Linked DNA regions of Homo sapiens: regions 1 and 2 are each linked to region 3. Evidence: fine-mapped expression QTL. A gene starts in region 3. Each other region holds a variant in brackets. All regions are shown on one strand. Distances are between the middles of the regions.

Region 1 (5,230 bases), 120 kb before region 3:
CAGAGAGGACAAACACTGTGTCTTCACATGGCAGAAGGGATAGAAGGGCAAAAGTGGGAGGGGGGGTGCTATTTCCCTCCAGCCCTTTATAAGGTTGCTAATCCCATTCATGAGGGCTCTGCTTTCATGACTTAATTACCTTAATTACCACCTCTTAATATTATCACATTGATGATTAAGTTTCAACACAAACTTTAGAGGGGACACAAACATTCAAACTATAGCAACTGGGCTTTTCCTTTCTTGGATCCTGTTCAAACCTAATTCCATCTTCCCATCAGTTGTACAAGTTATATAATACCTTTTCAATTAAATTCCTTTTCTGTTTAAATTAATCAGAGTCCATTTCTATTGCTTTCAACCAAGAGTCTTGACTGGTAAAAAGCTTGTATAATTCTCTGACACAGTCCATACATGTCATTATCCAATCATTCATTAACAGGTTGACCAGAACAGAGACTAGAACAGTCTTAACGCAGGCAAGTAGCAAGCTTTTGGAAACCATACTTAAAAGTACTTTGACTAACATAATGTCACATACATGACAGTAATGACAAGTGGTATTTCCAAATATCACGACTATTCATTCAACAAATACTTACAGAGGGCCTGTTATGTTCTAAGCATTGTACTAAGCTCTGGGAATTAGTAGAAAACAACACAGATCTGGTCTCTGTCTATGAGGAGCTGAGAGTCTAATGGGAAAAGCAGAAGTTAAATAAGCATATAAGATCACAAAATATAAACACGCTATGAAGGAAAATAATTTCCCCACGAGAAAGAAGAAGAAGAATATCTAATTTACCAGAGGATTCAGAAGAAATGGAGCCTAAAGTGTAAGTGGATATTGGGAGTAATCCAGGAAAAGAGAAGATCATATACAAAATCGCAAAATAGCTAATGAGAGAACCTGAGAAAACTCACTATACAAAACAGATAGAGATACTGGGTAAACAGCAGTCTTATTACTGGGTACATACCCAAAGGAATATACATTGTTTTATTATAAAGATACATGCATGTATATGTTCATTGCAGCACTATTCATAATAGCAAAGACATGGAATCAACCTAAACGCCACTCAATGATAGACTGAATAAAGAAAATGTGGTACATATACATCGTGGAATACTATGCAGCCATAAAAAGGAATGAGATCACGTCCTTTGCAGGGACATGGATGGAGTTGGAAGCCATTATCTTCAGCAAACTACCACAGGAACAGAAAACCAAACACCACATGTTCTCACTTATAAGTGGGAAGTGAATGATGAGAACACATGGACACCCAAGGAGGGACTGACACACACTGTGGCCTGTGAGGGGTGCTGGGGAGGGAGAGCATCAGGAAGAATAGCCAATGAATGCTGGGCTTAATACCTAGGTGATGGGATGATCTGTGCAGCAAATCACCATGGCACATGTTCACCTACGTAACAAACCACATCCTGCACATGTACCGCTGAACTTAAAATAAAAGTTGAAGACAAAAAAATAAAGAAATGCTGGGTAAATTTTTACAAGCAACTTTTCAAGTGTAGCACCGAGCTAAAAATAAAGGCAACAAAACTAAAGAGGAAATTAAAACTAAAATGAATATGTGGGTACCAATGCTTTTTTGTTGTTGTTGTTGTTGTCATGTGTGTTTTTGTCTGAGACAGTCTCACTCTGTCACCCAGGCTGGTGTGCAGTGGTGCAATCTTGGCTCACTGCAACCTCCACCTCCTGACTTCAAGTAATTGTCGTGCCTCAGCCTCCCGAGTAGCTAGGATTACAGGTGTGCACCACCACACTTGGCTAATTTTTTGTATTTTTAGTAGAGACAGGGTTTCACCATGTTGGCCAGGCTGGTCTCAAATTCCTGGCCTCAAGTGATCTATCTGCCTCAGCCTCCCAGAGTGCTGGGATTACAGGCGTGAATCACCGTGCCTGGCCTACCAATGCTTTTTGTTGTCCTGCTTTTGGTAACAAGGGGTTGGCTTTTAATGATGATGTAGGAATAAGGCACAAGGCTTTGGGCCCACCTGAGGAGGTTAAACTGAGGCTCCTGCATAAAGCCAGTACACTATCCGTCTCTCTCAGCCCTGGTTCTAGTAGGAGGAAATATGCCTCACCTGAGATTTGGTAACCACTGCTCTACATGATATAGAGTTCAATTTTCTTTTTCTTTTTTCTTTTTTCTTTCTTTTTTTTTTTTTTTTGAGACTTGAGTCTTTTTTTTGAGACGGAGTCTTGCTCTGTCACCCAGGCTGTAGTGCAATGGCGTGATCTCAGCTCACTGCAACCTCTTCCTCCTGGGTTCAAGCTATTCTCCCACCTCAGTCTCCTAAATAGCTGGGATTGCAGGCACCCACCATCACGCCCAGCTAATTTTTGTATTTTTGTAGAGACGGGATTTCACTATGTTGTCCAGGCTGGTGTTAAACTCCTAACCTCAGGTGATCCACCCGCCTCGGCCTCCCAAAGTGCTGGGATTACAGGTGTGAGCCCCTGTTCCCAGCCTAGGGTTCAATTTTCTACTCCTTGCAATGTCCACATACCTCCAACCTGAGAAATTAACGTAATAAAGAGTCCCTGGCTAATGCGAACCTTAGGGTACCTGGAAGAGACCGACAAAAAATTATTCTTGAGGGATGTTTCCTCAAGCCAGGCCACATGGAAGTTCCATTTCTAAAAGGCCTACCATATCTGAACACCAATCCAAAATGACAAAATACACCAGAAAATAATGCACCATGAATGGAAGTATGCAAAAACAATATACGGAAGAATTTCACTTCCAAACACTTCAAGTCATTGAACCATTGGTCAGGATTTTAAATTCATGTAATAAGCCAGGCACGGTGGCTCACACCTATAATCACAGCACTTTGGGAGGCTGAGGCGGTCAGATTACTTAAGGTCAGGAGTTTGAGACCAGCCTGGCCAATATGGTGAAACCCCGTCTCTACTAAAAATACAAAAATTAGCCAGGCGTGGTGGTGCACGCCTGTAATCCCAGCTACTTGGGAGGCTGAAACACGAGAATCGCTTGAACCTGGGAGGCAGAGTTTACAGTGAGCCAAGATCGTGCCATTGTACTCCAGCCTGGGTGACAGAGAGAGACTCTGTCTCTAAATAAATAAATAAATAAATAAATAAATAAATAAATAAATAGAAAGAAAATTTATGTAATAGTTTGAATTACTGGTTTCAATACTTTATCCTCCCCTGCATCCACACCCTTGCCCTAGCCCCACTGTAG[G/A]CAGAGTATACTTTTACGCCTTTCAACTTAGAGCTTGGCTAGGTGCCTTGTTTTGGCAAATGACTTGAGGAGGAAGGGGCCATGGACGATTCCCAGACTCAGCCTTAAGAAGACTGAGTGTTTCTGTTTGTTCTTTTGTGCCTCTGCGATCATCACAAGAAGAACTTCCTCGGGGTGGCTGCTGCCTTTCAGCCAGGGCCCCGAATGAACGCTAGAAGCAGAGCTGCCCCAACTGACCACAGATCTACAGTGAAAAGTGGAGCCACATCAGCTGCCCCAGTTTTAGGCAGAGGCCCCCAGCAAAGCCCAGCCTAGTTCCAGCCAGTCAACAGATTCATAAAAATATGCGATTTTTGTTTTAGGCCAGTGAGTTTTCGAGTGATGTGTTATATAATATTACTATGAAAATATCCATGTGATATGAATAAGTATGCTTTATATTATCGAGAAAAAAACAAAAAGGTATCAAAATTGAGGGAAAAAAAAGGTGTTCTTTTAAGACCATGAAGAAAGAAATCTAAATCAAACATAGAAATATTTTAGAAGTTATTGAATTTAAAAGCTAGTGGAGAATTCTGCTTCTACTCACAAATGACACTTCTATGCAAACTTTCTTCCAACCATAAACAACTAGAAAACCAGGCAAAATATATGAAACAACTCCTTTTGGATACTGAACAATAGGTAGTGAAGAACTCAGGAAAGGGAAATAAAGTGAGCCCTACCATTGCCCCAGTTACTTGTGAAGAGTTTCCAGGCTGCAGAGCAGGGAGAGAAACCCAAACAGAGATCCACAGTCTTGCTAAATTGAAGAGAAAGAGCTCAGAATTCAGGGAGGCAAAAATGTCTAGATTTTCTGGGGCAGAATACCACAGAAGATGGAGCTGCACAAAGAAAGAGAATTCCAGAGATCTTCAGAAGGGTACCCTTGAGTGTTTACCTAAGTAACAATCACTGCATGTGTAAGGTGAAACTCCTAAGGCAATAATCAATAGAAAACTATAAGCTGAACAAATCCTGGAGCTCCACAAGGCTAAGAATAGTTCATGTTTGCATCTTCCAGAGTGGAAAAAACACAGAATACACAGGGCACTGGATAAAGTCTTGACATTAGCAACACACAGGAGCAGGCTAAATTAGCCCCACACTAAATGATCCTCTTGACTCACCCTAACAAAACTTAAAAGCAAGCCTCAAGAAGATCTAATATCCCAAGTGGCTCAACTGCATGGCAGAGCAATTTCAATATTTTATAAAGGAATACAACAAAACCCAGCATCCAAAAATTACAACTTACAATATCCAACACTCAATAAAAAATTACCAGGCATGCAAAGAAGCAGGAAAAAGTGACCCCAAACCAAGAAACAATTTCATAAATAGAAACAGGCCCCTAAATAACAGAAATGATGGAATTAGCAGAAAATGAATTGAGTTACTTTATAAATATAAAAATATATTCTCAATGATATAAAGGAAAACATGAATATGCTGAAGAAAAAAAGAAAAATACATTTTAAAGACCAAAATGGGATTTGTAGAGAGAATAAAATGCAGTATCAGAAGAAAAAAGTACATTGGATGAGATTTACATCAGAATAGACACTACAGTAAAGATGAAGACATACCAACAGAAACTACTCGAAATGAAGTACAGAAAGTCATTCAGGTGACTTTCTGTCACCTGTGCAGTGGCTCACGCCTGTAATCCCAGCACTTTGGGAGGCCGAGGCAGGCAGATCACAGGGTCAGGAGATCGAGACCATCCTGGCTAACACAGTGAAACCCCGTCTCTACTAAAAATACAAAAAATTAGCTGGGCGTGCTGGTGGGTGCCTGTAGTCCCAGCTACTCGGGAGGCTGACGCAGGAGAATGGCGTGAACCCAGGAGGCGGAGCTTGCAGAGAGCCGAGATCTCGCCACTGCACTCCAGCCTGGGCGACAGAGCGAGACTCCGTCTCAAAAAAAAAAGAAAAAAGAAAGTC
Region 2 (5,230 bases), 37 kb before region 3:
AGAAAGCGAGATAAGTCCCCAGGGGACAAAAGCAAAGAGGAGACTGGAAAATCAGAATATTAACTGTGTGAGCCAATGCTGCAAACAGCCCAGTGGAGGCGGGAGGTGGGGGCAGGGGCTGTTGGTCTCAGCGTTTTGGTAAAGGCTTAGGTTTTAACACCCACTTGGGCATAGGAGGAAGGCTTTGGGCCCACATGAAGCGTGGAATTGGAAAGGAGAACCTGCATAAAGTTAGGAAAAGTGAAACCTTTGATGAAAATGTAGACTAGAATAAAAAAATTAGTCATCACCACAGGCTGATGACAAGGAAGCTGGTCTGAAGTACAGGGATGGCGGGAAGGGAAAAGAGGCAAATCCCCTAAGAATCTGTACCTACAAGCTGGTCCTCACACAGCCACGGTACAGTGTATCTGCATGAACCTTCATGGGCCACACCCCTAAAATTAAAAATTAGCATAAAATAGTTCCAAACCAGGCATATTCCAACAGAAGCAACTGCAAAATATTTCCTGGGGAACTCACTCCTAACCCAAGCTGCTCATGCTTCTCACAGATAAATTTCCATTGAAGGTGAGTGTATTATGTGGGAGACAGCCTCTGAAATAGCTCCTAATGATCTCCATCTCCTGGAACTCACACCCTTGTGTAATCCCTTTCTCATGAGTGTGGACCAGACTTATTGGCCCACTTCTAATGAATAGAATATGGCAGATACAATGGGATATCACTTCTGAGATTAGGTTACAAACAGACTGTGGCTTCCATCTTAGACACCTTTTCTTATTCTCTTTCTCTCAAAGCCTTTGCTCTGGGGGAGGCAAGCTGCTATGCTGTGAGTAGCCCTGTAGTGAGTCTCACATAGAAGAAATTGATGTCCCTGGTTAGTAGCCAGCAAGGATCTGTAGCCTGCCAACAGCCATGTGAGTGAGCATGGAAGCAGATCTTCACCCAGTGAAGCCTTGAGATGCTGCAGCCTTGGCCAACACCTTGATTGCAACTTTGTGAGACACTTGACCCAGTCGCACCCAGCCAGGCTGCACTCAGATTCCTGATCCACAGAAACTGTGAGATAATAAATATTTGTTGTTTAAAGATACTACATTTGGGGATAACTTACATAGCAATAGAAAATACAAATTGTGACATAAACAAAAACTAACTTTTATTGAGTTAAGCCATTGAGAATTCAAGATTTCTCTGTTAAAGCAGCCAGTGCTACCTTAGCTAAAATAAAATAACTTTTAAATGATGTTTAAAAGTTCCAAGCTTAAAAGATAAAACTGAGAACAGAAGAAAATACGACTCTAAAGCAGGACAAACTGTCAAAACCCACCATTTTATCACTCTGCAAATCAATCAAAGACATACAACAAAGAAACATGTATTCATAAAAATTACTGGACTTTGGGTAAGAATAGCACGACTCTATAGTATTCTTGCCTGAGGCTGCTCTCGTTCACCAGGCTCCCAATGCTATCAGTTGCAATACTTCAACAAACGTGGTGCCGCCTGTGAAAAATCAGCTGCTTCACTGCCTCTGCCAGAGGGCTCCACTTAATTTGGGGCATTGTCAGTTATAATATCAAGAACAGGAAAGGCCAGAAGCACTGTTAGGCTGGGTTTCAGCAATGTTTGGGCCAAACAATGGACTGGCAAACTAACCAGGAATTTATCAGAAAATTCCAGGGAGTGAGACAGACCAAGGGAGTTTGATAAGCTCTCCACATATCTTGGGTTAACTCGAAGCTGGGTGAATGCACAGCAGAGACCAGAGAAGCCTGAGCCACCCACACATCCCTAGCCAATGGAGCTTATATATGTGTGCAGGGGAAATAAAAGAGTCTGGTGAAGAGTAAAAGCCAGGGTAGGTTTGAAAACAACCTGAACTTTGCCCTCCCCAGCTCACACATAGAACTATAGGCAGACACAAAGTCTAACTAGCTTGAGGTTCTTGAGCACAACCTCCGAAAAATCTCTGGCTGAACACTAAGCTATGCAGATATGGGGGAAACCCCTAAGAAACAAGGCTTAAAATAAAAATAAGAAGGAAATAAAACTGAATGGAAACATCAGAGGCCACATGTTGTAGGGAAGACAGATTTCACAGATTTCATTCAGGGATTAACAAACAAAGCAATAACAATCTTCAAGAGGAAAACATAATCTAGAATTACTACAATATATTATCTAAAATGTTCAGTATTTAACAAAAAATTATGAAACATGCAAATAAACAAGAAGGTATGCATATCCCCAAATGTTGCTTTTATCAGACAAAGACTACAAGGCAGCTATTATAAATATATCAAAGAATTAAAGGAAACCATGCTTAAAGATTTAAAGGAAAGCATGACAACAATGACTTCATGAATACAAATCACAACAAAGAGAGAGAGATTAAATAAAGGAACAAATGGAAATTCTGGAGCTGAAGAGTAGGGTAACTGAAATTAAAAATTCAGTAGAGGAGCTCACCATAATAAATG[A/T]TCAGTAAACATGAAGATGGATCTGTATAAATTATCCAATATGAATAATGGAGAGAAAAAATATTAAACAGAAATGAACACAGCCTCAGAGGCCTATGGGACAACATCAAGCATAGCACCATGCATGTGATGGGAGTTCCAGAAGGAGGAGGGGAAAAAAAGAGGAAAAGGAAGAGATAGGGCAGAAAAAAATATTTGGAGAGACAATAGCCAAAAACTTTCCTTTTGTTTTTGTTCTCGTTTTTTGTTTTTGTTTTTTTTAGAGATGAGGTCTCACTATGTTGCCCAGGCTTCAGTGCAGTGGCTATTCACAGGCACAATCATAACATAGTGCACTACAGGTCAAACTCTTGGGCTAAAGCAATCCTACTGCCTCCACTTCCCAAGTGGCTAGGGCTACAGGTGCCCACTACTGTGCCTACCTACCAAATTTAATTAAAAAACAAAAAACATTAGAGATCAAAGAAGCTCAATGAACCTAAAGTAGGTTAAACACTAAGAGATCTATATTCACACAAATTACAGTCAAAATGTTGAAAGCTGAAAACAGAAAATCTTAATAGCAGCACAAGAAAAACAATTCATCACATAGAGGGAAACAACTCACTTTTCATCAAAAACAATGAACACACGGCCGGGCGCGGTGGCTCACGCCTGTAATCCCAGCACTTTGGGAGGCCGAGGTGGGTGGATCATGAGGTCAGGAGATCGAGACCATCCTGGCTAACAAGGTGAAACCCCGTCTCTACTAAAAATACAAAAAATTAGCCGGGCGCGGTGGCGGGCGCCTGTAGTCCCAGCTACTCGGGAGGCTGAGGCAGGAGAATGGCGTGAACCCGGGAAGCGGAGCTTGCAGTGAGCCGAGATTGCGCCACTGCAGTCCGCAGTCCGGCCTGGGCGACAGAGCGAGACTCCGTCTCAAAAAAAAAAAAAAAAAAAAACAATGAACACCAGAAGGCAGTGGAGTGGTATATTCTAAGTGCTGAAAGAAAAATAACTGTCAGCCAGGAATTTTATATCCAGCAAAACTATTCTTCCAAGATGAAGTAAAAATAAAAACATTTCCAGATAAATGTAGACTGAATAATTTATTGCCAGGAGACTTATATTATGAGAAGCACTAATGGAAGTCCTTCAGGCTAAAGGGAAAATAAAGTAATAGCCAATGGTAACTCAAATACAGAAGAAGAAATAAAGAGCACCAGAAATGGTAAATATGTGAGTAAATACAAGAGCCTCTATAAATATATTTTCCTCACTTCCTCTCTTAACTTCTTTAAAAGATGTAAGATTACACAAAGCACTTATTATAATACCAATGTTGGTTTATAACAAGTGTTAGGTTTAAAACATATATAGGTAATATATGACAGTAATAGCAAAAAGGGGGAAAATGAGTTATATTAGAGCAATGCTCCTATATTTTACCATAATTATATTTTGATAAGCTAAGATATACATTGTAATTCCTAGTGCAATCACTAAGAAAGTAACTCAAATTGTATAGTAAAAAATTAACAAATAAATATAAATGGTACACTAAAATATTTATTGATTTAATACAAAAGAAGACAGTAAAGAAGGAACAGAGGATCAAAAAATAATATGACAGTCCAACCACATCAATAACCACATTAAGATGTGAAGGTCTGGCATGGTGGCTCATGCCTGTAATCCCAGAACTTTGGGAGGCCAAGGTGGGTGGATCACTTGAGCTCAGAAGTTTTGAGACCAGCCTGGGCAACATAGTGAAGCCCCATCTCTACAAGAAATACAAAAATTAGCCAGGCATGGTGGTATGTGTCTCTAGTTCCAGCTACTTGGGGAACTGAGGTGGGAGGATTGATTGAGCCTGGGAGGTCAAGGCTGCAGTGAGCCATGTTCACACCACTACCTTGTAGCTTAATGACAGAGCAAGACCCTTCCTCAAAAACAAATTAAATAAATAAAATAAAACATGAATGGACAAAAACACTCATTCAAAAGGCATAGTGATAAGATAAAGCAAAAAAAAAAAAAAAACCATTAGATGCTGTCTACAGGAGACATACCTTAAATCTGAAACACAAACAGTTGAAAGTAAAAGAATGGGGAAAAGATATACTATGCAAACTATACCATGAGAGAATTTTCCAGAATTGATGAAAAACATGAATCCACAGACCTATGGAGCACACACATGAATATATCATAGCAAAACTGCAGAACAATAAAATCAAAGCAAGATCTCAACAGCAACCTGAGAGAAATTAAAACTACCTACAAAGACAATCAGGATGATAGCAGACTCCTTAACGGCAACAACAGACAGATGACAAAAGAATATCTTCAAAACACTTAGAGAAAATAAATGTTAAGCTAGAATTCCCACAATAAGCTAAACTGTATCAAACAGTATGGGTAAAATATATTTTTTGTTAAAGTCCAAGTTTGCTACTAACAGATATTCACTGAAAAAATTACTAAAGAATATACTTTAGGAGGAAACAATGAGATGTAAGGAGGTAAAGTGAGGAGTAAAAAAGGTAGAGATGTGAGTACATACAATCAAGAGCTAATAATATAAAAAGTAACAATAATAATAGAGACTAATTTGACAGGTTAAAAGGTAGAACTAAAATACTGGGCAATAAGTCCACATAAGAAGGGAAGAAGTCAAGGAAATTAAAGTGTCCTAAGATCACTTAAGTATTTGAGGTGATGGGTATGTCAATTCACTTGATTTCATTATTCCATATTGTATT
Region 3 (5,230 bases):
TGTACAGCCTTAGGCTTTTTGAGTCTTCATTTCTTTTCCAAAAATCCCCTGTACTCAGCTCTGATGGGGGTGGGGAGAGTTCAGGAATAGAAGGCAACATGGAGGATTGCAAAGTTCCTCGTCTAAGATTAGCCTAGGAACTCACAAATTCGTTGTGTGACCTTGGGCAAGTCCCCTCCCTTCTTGGGGCTTCAGAGTCCCCGGTTTGTAATGAAGAGGTTGGACCAAGTCAATACTAAGGTTCCTCTCCTGGCCATCATTCTACAGCTACATACAAGCTCACTCGTTGGATGTGAGCCCCCTGGCACAAAACTCAGCGGGCCCTGCCTGCCAGATCAGTGGGGCAGTGGCGGGTGGGAGATGCGGGGGCTGTATGTGAGGCCGTTCATCCTATGTTCATGTTCCTTTTAGAAACACCTGCCACCCTAGCCCTCCCAGCTCCCTTTTTAGACCCTGATTCACTGCCAACTCACGAAGCCTCTCCCTCCCCTCCCTCCTCTCTTCTCCCCCCACCCCCCACTCTTTTAGGCATTGGCAGCTGGGTGCAGAAGTAGCCCCAGCATTCAGGGAATGCTGCGCAGTGGTAGAGGGCAGTGCCCCCAGGGTCAGAGAGAGCACACCAGGAAGTACCACTCTCTAACCTTGGCCCAGCCCAGTTCTTTGGGTCACTGAAAGACCTGGGCTGAGGTCTTTCTGTACCACTAACTAGCAGTGTGTGGTTGTGGAAAATGCAATTCATTTCTCAAGCCTCAACATCTTCATCTGTAAATCGGCATTATATTTGGTTGAACCATATGAAATTGCTGTTTTTGTAGGTTAAATAAAAACAGTTGAATATTGCAGTTGCATATGGCTTAACGTGATACCTGTCCTGCCTGCTTCCCAAGGCTGTTGGGGAAATAAGAAGAGTTCAGAGGGCAGCATTTTCAAAAGCCCTGAACTAATATGAGGGCATTATTTTATTATTATTACTTCAAAGAGCTTAGTACAGACCCACCCGGAGCCAGTGGACTGAACCAATAACCCAGAACTTGAAGGTTTGGGACTTGGAAGTCTGGGAGAGCGCCACCTGCTCTGATGACTAACAGGGCAGACGCTTCCACCTGGCCTCCTCATCTCCTAGCTCTAAAAGGCCCTTGGTGAAACATTATTGAGATGACACAAGTTCCCAGGCCCCCAAAAGGAGAAGCAGCACACGCAGGCACATACTCCAGCTCGCCCCAGATCCCCCCTCCCACCCACCAGGGGCCTTAGCATGCAGGAAGGACACGACCAGCAACATCCCAGAGGGCACCCCCTGAGGTAGGTGAAGGTAGAGACCAAGCTGGGGAGTGCCACAAAGCTCTTGCCTGAATCAAGGGTCAGGGGTCCCCAGAGAAGTGGGGAATGATCTGACCTCGGAAAAGTCTCATCTCCCTGTCCCATATCCCACCAGGAATGGGGGGACAGTGGGGGGGACAGAGCCCAGGTGTGGGTGATTCAGAGTGAACCGCGCTCAGATACACTCTCTCTCACACAGCCAACGCACGCGCGCGCACACGCACACACACACACACACAGTCACACAGGGCAGATACCGGGACCCACTCACAGAGACAGTCACGCCGGCACACACATCCATTCACACACTCACAGACACACACAGGCACACATGGGGACAACACACACTCATTCACTCACATGTCCACAGATGCATACACAGTACCACCCTCCACACTCACGCTGCATACACCCACTAACATGCACACACACTCTCGCCCACAGTGACACACGCACACACTCACGGCATACACTCACCGGCACACACAATCGCCCACAGACCCACACAGTGACACACTCGGCACAGACACACAGCGACACGCACTCACATTCACACACCTGCAGAGGAAACTTCTCTCCGGATCTCCCCAGCACCACGACTTCCCCCACAACCAGCTGGCTACTCCCTCCCAGACCCGAGCCTCCAGCCGGGCGAGGGCTGGGCCGGGGCTGGCCTGTCCCCGCGGCCCTGACCGGGAGCGTGGGTCCGCGGTCCGCGTGGTCCCCTGCCCGCCCCTCGGGTCGGGCCCGCGGGCAGCCAGGCCGGGGCAGGAGCGGGGGCAGCTGAGGAGGCCCAGCCCCTCCCCCCTCCCGGGGCCGGGAGCCGAGCGCCGGAGCCCGGGGCGTGGGCGGCGCCGGGGCCGCAGCCGGGCCGTGCCTGGGGGGCGCTGCAGAGGGAGCCGCGAGCGCGGCCCCGTCCCCACTCCTCCCCGCGGCTTACCTGGCCCGGCTCGGGCTCCGGCCGGGTTACATGGTGCCGGCGGCCCGGGCCGGGGGCGCTGCGGCGTTGGGCAGGCGGGCAGGGACCGGGGCCCGGCACTGCGGAGCCCCCAGCTGAGGGGCCGCGCCGGCTGCGGAGCCCCAAGCGAGCGCCGAGCGGCAGCGGGCGCGGGAGCGGGAGGCGGCCAAGCCACGGAGGCTGGATTTCCCGGGGACCGGGAAGGGGAGGCGGGGGGATCCCGCCCGCGCGCTCCGCCCCCGCCCCCGCCCCCGCGCAGGGCAGCCGAGCAGGGAGAGGGAGAGGGAGAGGAAGAGGGAGGGGGACCGAGCTCCCCGCCCCCGCGCGGACCCAGGAGGGCCGAGGTCGCCGCCCGCGGGCGGCCGCCGGGGTCCCGGAGGAGCGCCCACCTCGCTGAGCGACGGTGCTGGGGGCGCCCAGCGTAGGGGCAGGAATGAGATCCCCCTCCCCGGGGACCCAGGAACAGGCACCCGAAGTGTCACGGCCACGCACAGCCGACCTGGGTACAGGGACCCAAGCCCGGCGGCGGGCGGGCGGTCGGGGACCAGCTCAGCCTCACGGACCGGGTCTCGCCCCCCGCCGAGGGGCAGTCACGCCCTGAATGTCACACACAGCCCCCAGGCCCGTCCGCTTAGGAGACTCTCCTTCGGGCTTTCCCGGTCGGCCGCCTGACCTCAGCTCCTGGCTTGGGGTCAGGGAGCCCCCCTCTTCGGCCCCAGCCCCTGCCAGGATGGGGCGCTGTGCCCGGCCTCGGAGCCGCTGGCAGGCGTCCCCCACCCACAGTCCGCACAGCCGAGGCATCCCCAGTGTGGAGGGAGAGCCCCGCTGTACCTGCCGCCTGTGCTGGGCCCCCGCCCGTGCCCACTGTGCCCGCCCGCCTCTGGGCCCTGAGCCTGGGATTGTGCCATGGCGGGGTCGGGGTGGGGGGAAAGGGACTGTCCGAAGCACAGCTGGAGGCTGCGGAGCCCGGACACAGGCTGCGGGAGCCGAGAGGCGGAGAGCGGACTGCAGCAGTCCCCTGGCTTGAATCCGTCTTGGCGCCCAGAGCGATGCTGTAATGGGGGGGAGGGGGCCACGGTGGGGAAGCCGCAGGGGGAGGGGCTGAAGACGTGGGGGAAGGGGTGGCTCCGGATTCCGGCTTTCCAGGGTAGGTGTGAGGAAACACTGCCTCCGGCGCTGAAAGTTGGGGGTGGAGGTTCAGTGGGCATCCTTAAAGCCCTCTTCCCTCCTCTACCTTTTCCGGTCTTGAAAGCTTGGGATGGTGAGGTGTGGGCTTGGGAGGCTTGAGACTGCCCACCTCTCTAGGAACATACCTTGGAGTTGTTCTGATTCAACGGCCCCCACCCCGCACCCCAACAACTCCCTGCTCTCTGTTTCCTTGTGGGGCCACCGGCTCTCCTCCCTGTATAAAGGGGAAAGTGAGGCACGGAAAGGAGAAGCCAAAGGCCCAGAAGAGCTAGAACTGGGAGCCAAGACCTCTTTTCCCCAGGGAGATGATGTTTTAAGATGCCACATTACATTAAATAACATAAGGGGCTTGGAGAGCCCTCTTCCCAAGGGATACCTAGAAGTCTGGTAAGAGACTAGTAGATTGGTCACCTACCCTGCTGCTCACAAGAACGGTTCATTGTCTCTTCAATCATGAAGTGAGGTTGCAGACCATTTCCAGCCCAGGGTTCAGTCAAGAGCAGATGTCATGAAAATAAGAAAGTTGTTCCCAGGAACCCACTTTAGAACTGAAGGAAACATCTCACTTTCCGTGGAGCATAAGAACAGCCGTTGGGCCGAGCGCAGTGGCTCATGCTTATAATCCTAGCACTTTGGGAGGCCAAGGCGGGTGGATTACCTGAGGTCAGGAGTTCAACACCAGCCTGGCCAACATGGTAAAATCCCGTCTCTACTAAAATTACAAAAAATTAGCCGAGTGCAGTGGCACGTGCCTGTAATCCCAGCTACTCAGGAGGCTGAGGCAGGAGAATTGCTTGAACCCGGGAGGCACAGGTTGCAGTGAGCTGAGACTGTGCCACACTGCAGCCTGGGCAACAGAGCCAGATTCAGTCTTAAAGAAAAAAAAAAAAAAGGATGAGCTGACGGCCGGGCACAGTGGCTCACGCCTGTAATCCCAGCACTTTGGGAGGCTAAGGCAGACGGATCACCTGAGGTCGGGAGTTCGAGATCAGCCTGGCCAACATGGTGAAACCCTGTCTCTACCCGAAATACAAAAATTAGCCCGGTGTGGTGTTGGGCGCCTGTAATCCCAGCTACTCAGAGGCTGAGGCAGGCGAATCACTTGAATCCGGGAGGCAGAGGTTGCAGTGAGCAGAGATTGCACCATTGCACTCCTGCCTGGAACTCCGTCTCAAAAAAAAAAAAAAAAAAAAAAAGAACAGCCGTGATAGAGGATGTTAAAAAGCACCACCGTGTTTTCGCAGTTCTAAGACCTGTATTTTGTAAACTATTCTGAAACTGGAAAGCATCTTACAATAAACAGGGACATTTAATATGGCTCTTCTTACCTTTCTGTTAAAGCTATTAGAGTTGGTGCATTTTAGAATTGAGAACATAATGTTATTTTCATTTGTTCATTCAACAACCCTTTACTGATTATACCTGGCACCTTGCTAGCCTCTTGGGGGCATACAGGTTAATCAGACAGGCTTACCTTAGACAGTGTTCTCCCATAGCCATCCAGTGATTAATAACTGATTAATAAGGGAGATGGAGATGTAAACCAATAATTACTATCAGGGCCAGCTTCATGGGAGTGTGACCTGTGCAGTCGTACAGAGCCCCACATGTAGAAAGGCATCACTCTTGGTAGAATATTCTGCTGTCACTGTCTTAAAATTGTTAATAATTTTTGGACAAGGGGCTCACCCTGGGCCTAGCTCTGCCTAGGTGAAGAGGACAGTCAAAGAAGCACAAAAAGCTGGGCGCGGTGGCTCACGCCTG

Alleles and levels. Positions count from the first base shown, and alleles are read on the strand shown. Sizes are in standard deviations (SD) of each study's normalised expression. Not every link is listed here.
For the expression in whole blood of the gene that starts at base 2,460 in region 3, A is the low allele of the variant in region 2 and T is the other (large effect, 1.1 SD a copy in GTEx).

Evidence for each region. PIP is the estimated chance that this variant, and not a neighbour inherited with it, causes the effect. A credible set is the group of variants that fine-mapping cannot tell apart.
Region 1: its variant is the best candidate, but not a certain one, in a credible set for the expression of DLGAP3 in lung (TOPMed, PIP 0.51).
Region 2: its variant is the best candidate, but not a certain one, in a credible set for the expression of DLGAP3 in whole blood (GTEx, PIP 0.90).

Annotation. Positions count from the first base shown.
Region 1 is chr1:34,809,830-34,815,059 of GRCh38, forward strand. No RefSeq gene overlaps it. Among named protein-coding and RNA genes, the nearest start is that of GJA4, 19 kb to the left of the region's middle. The variant G/A (reference allele first, on the strand shown) is at 3,246.
Region 2 is chr1:34,889,773-34,895,002 of GRCh38, forward strand. The region is part of intron 5 of DLGAP3 (DLG associated protein 3); the gene reads right to left. Among named protein-coding and RNA genes, the nearest start is that of SMIM12, 33 kb to the left of the region's middle. The variant A/T (reference allele first, on the strand shown) is at 2,487.
Region 3 is chr1:34,927,191-34,932,420 of GRCh38, forward strand. It overlaps DLGAP3 (DLG associated protein 3), which reads right to left and starts at 2,460. Exons shown (of 12, transcript NM_001080418.3): 1 at 2,261-2,460. RefSeq lists silencers at 1,969-2,038, 3,019-3,068.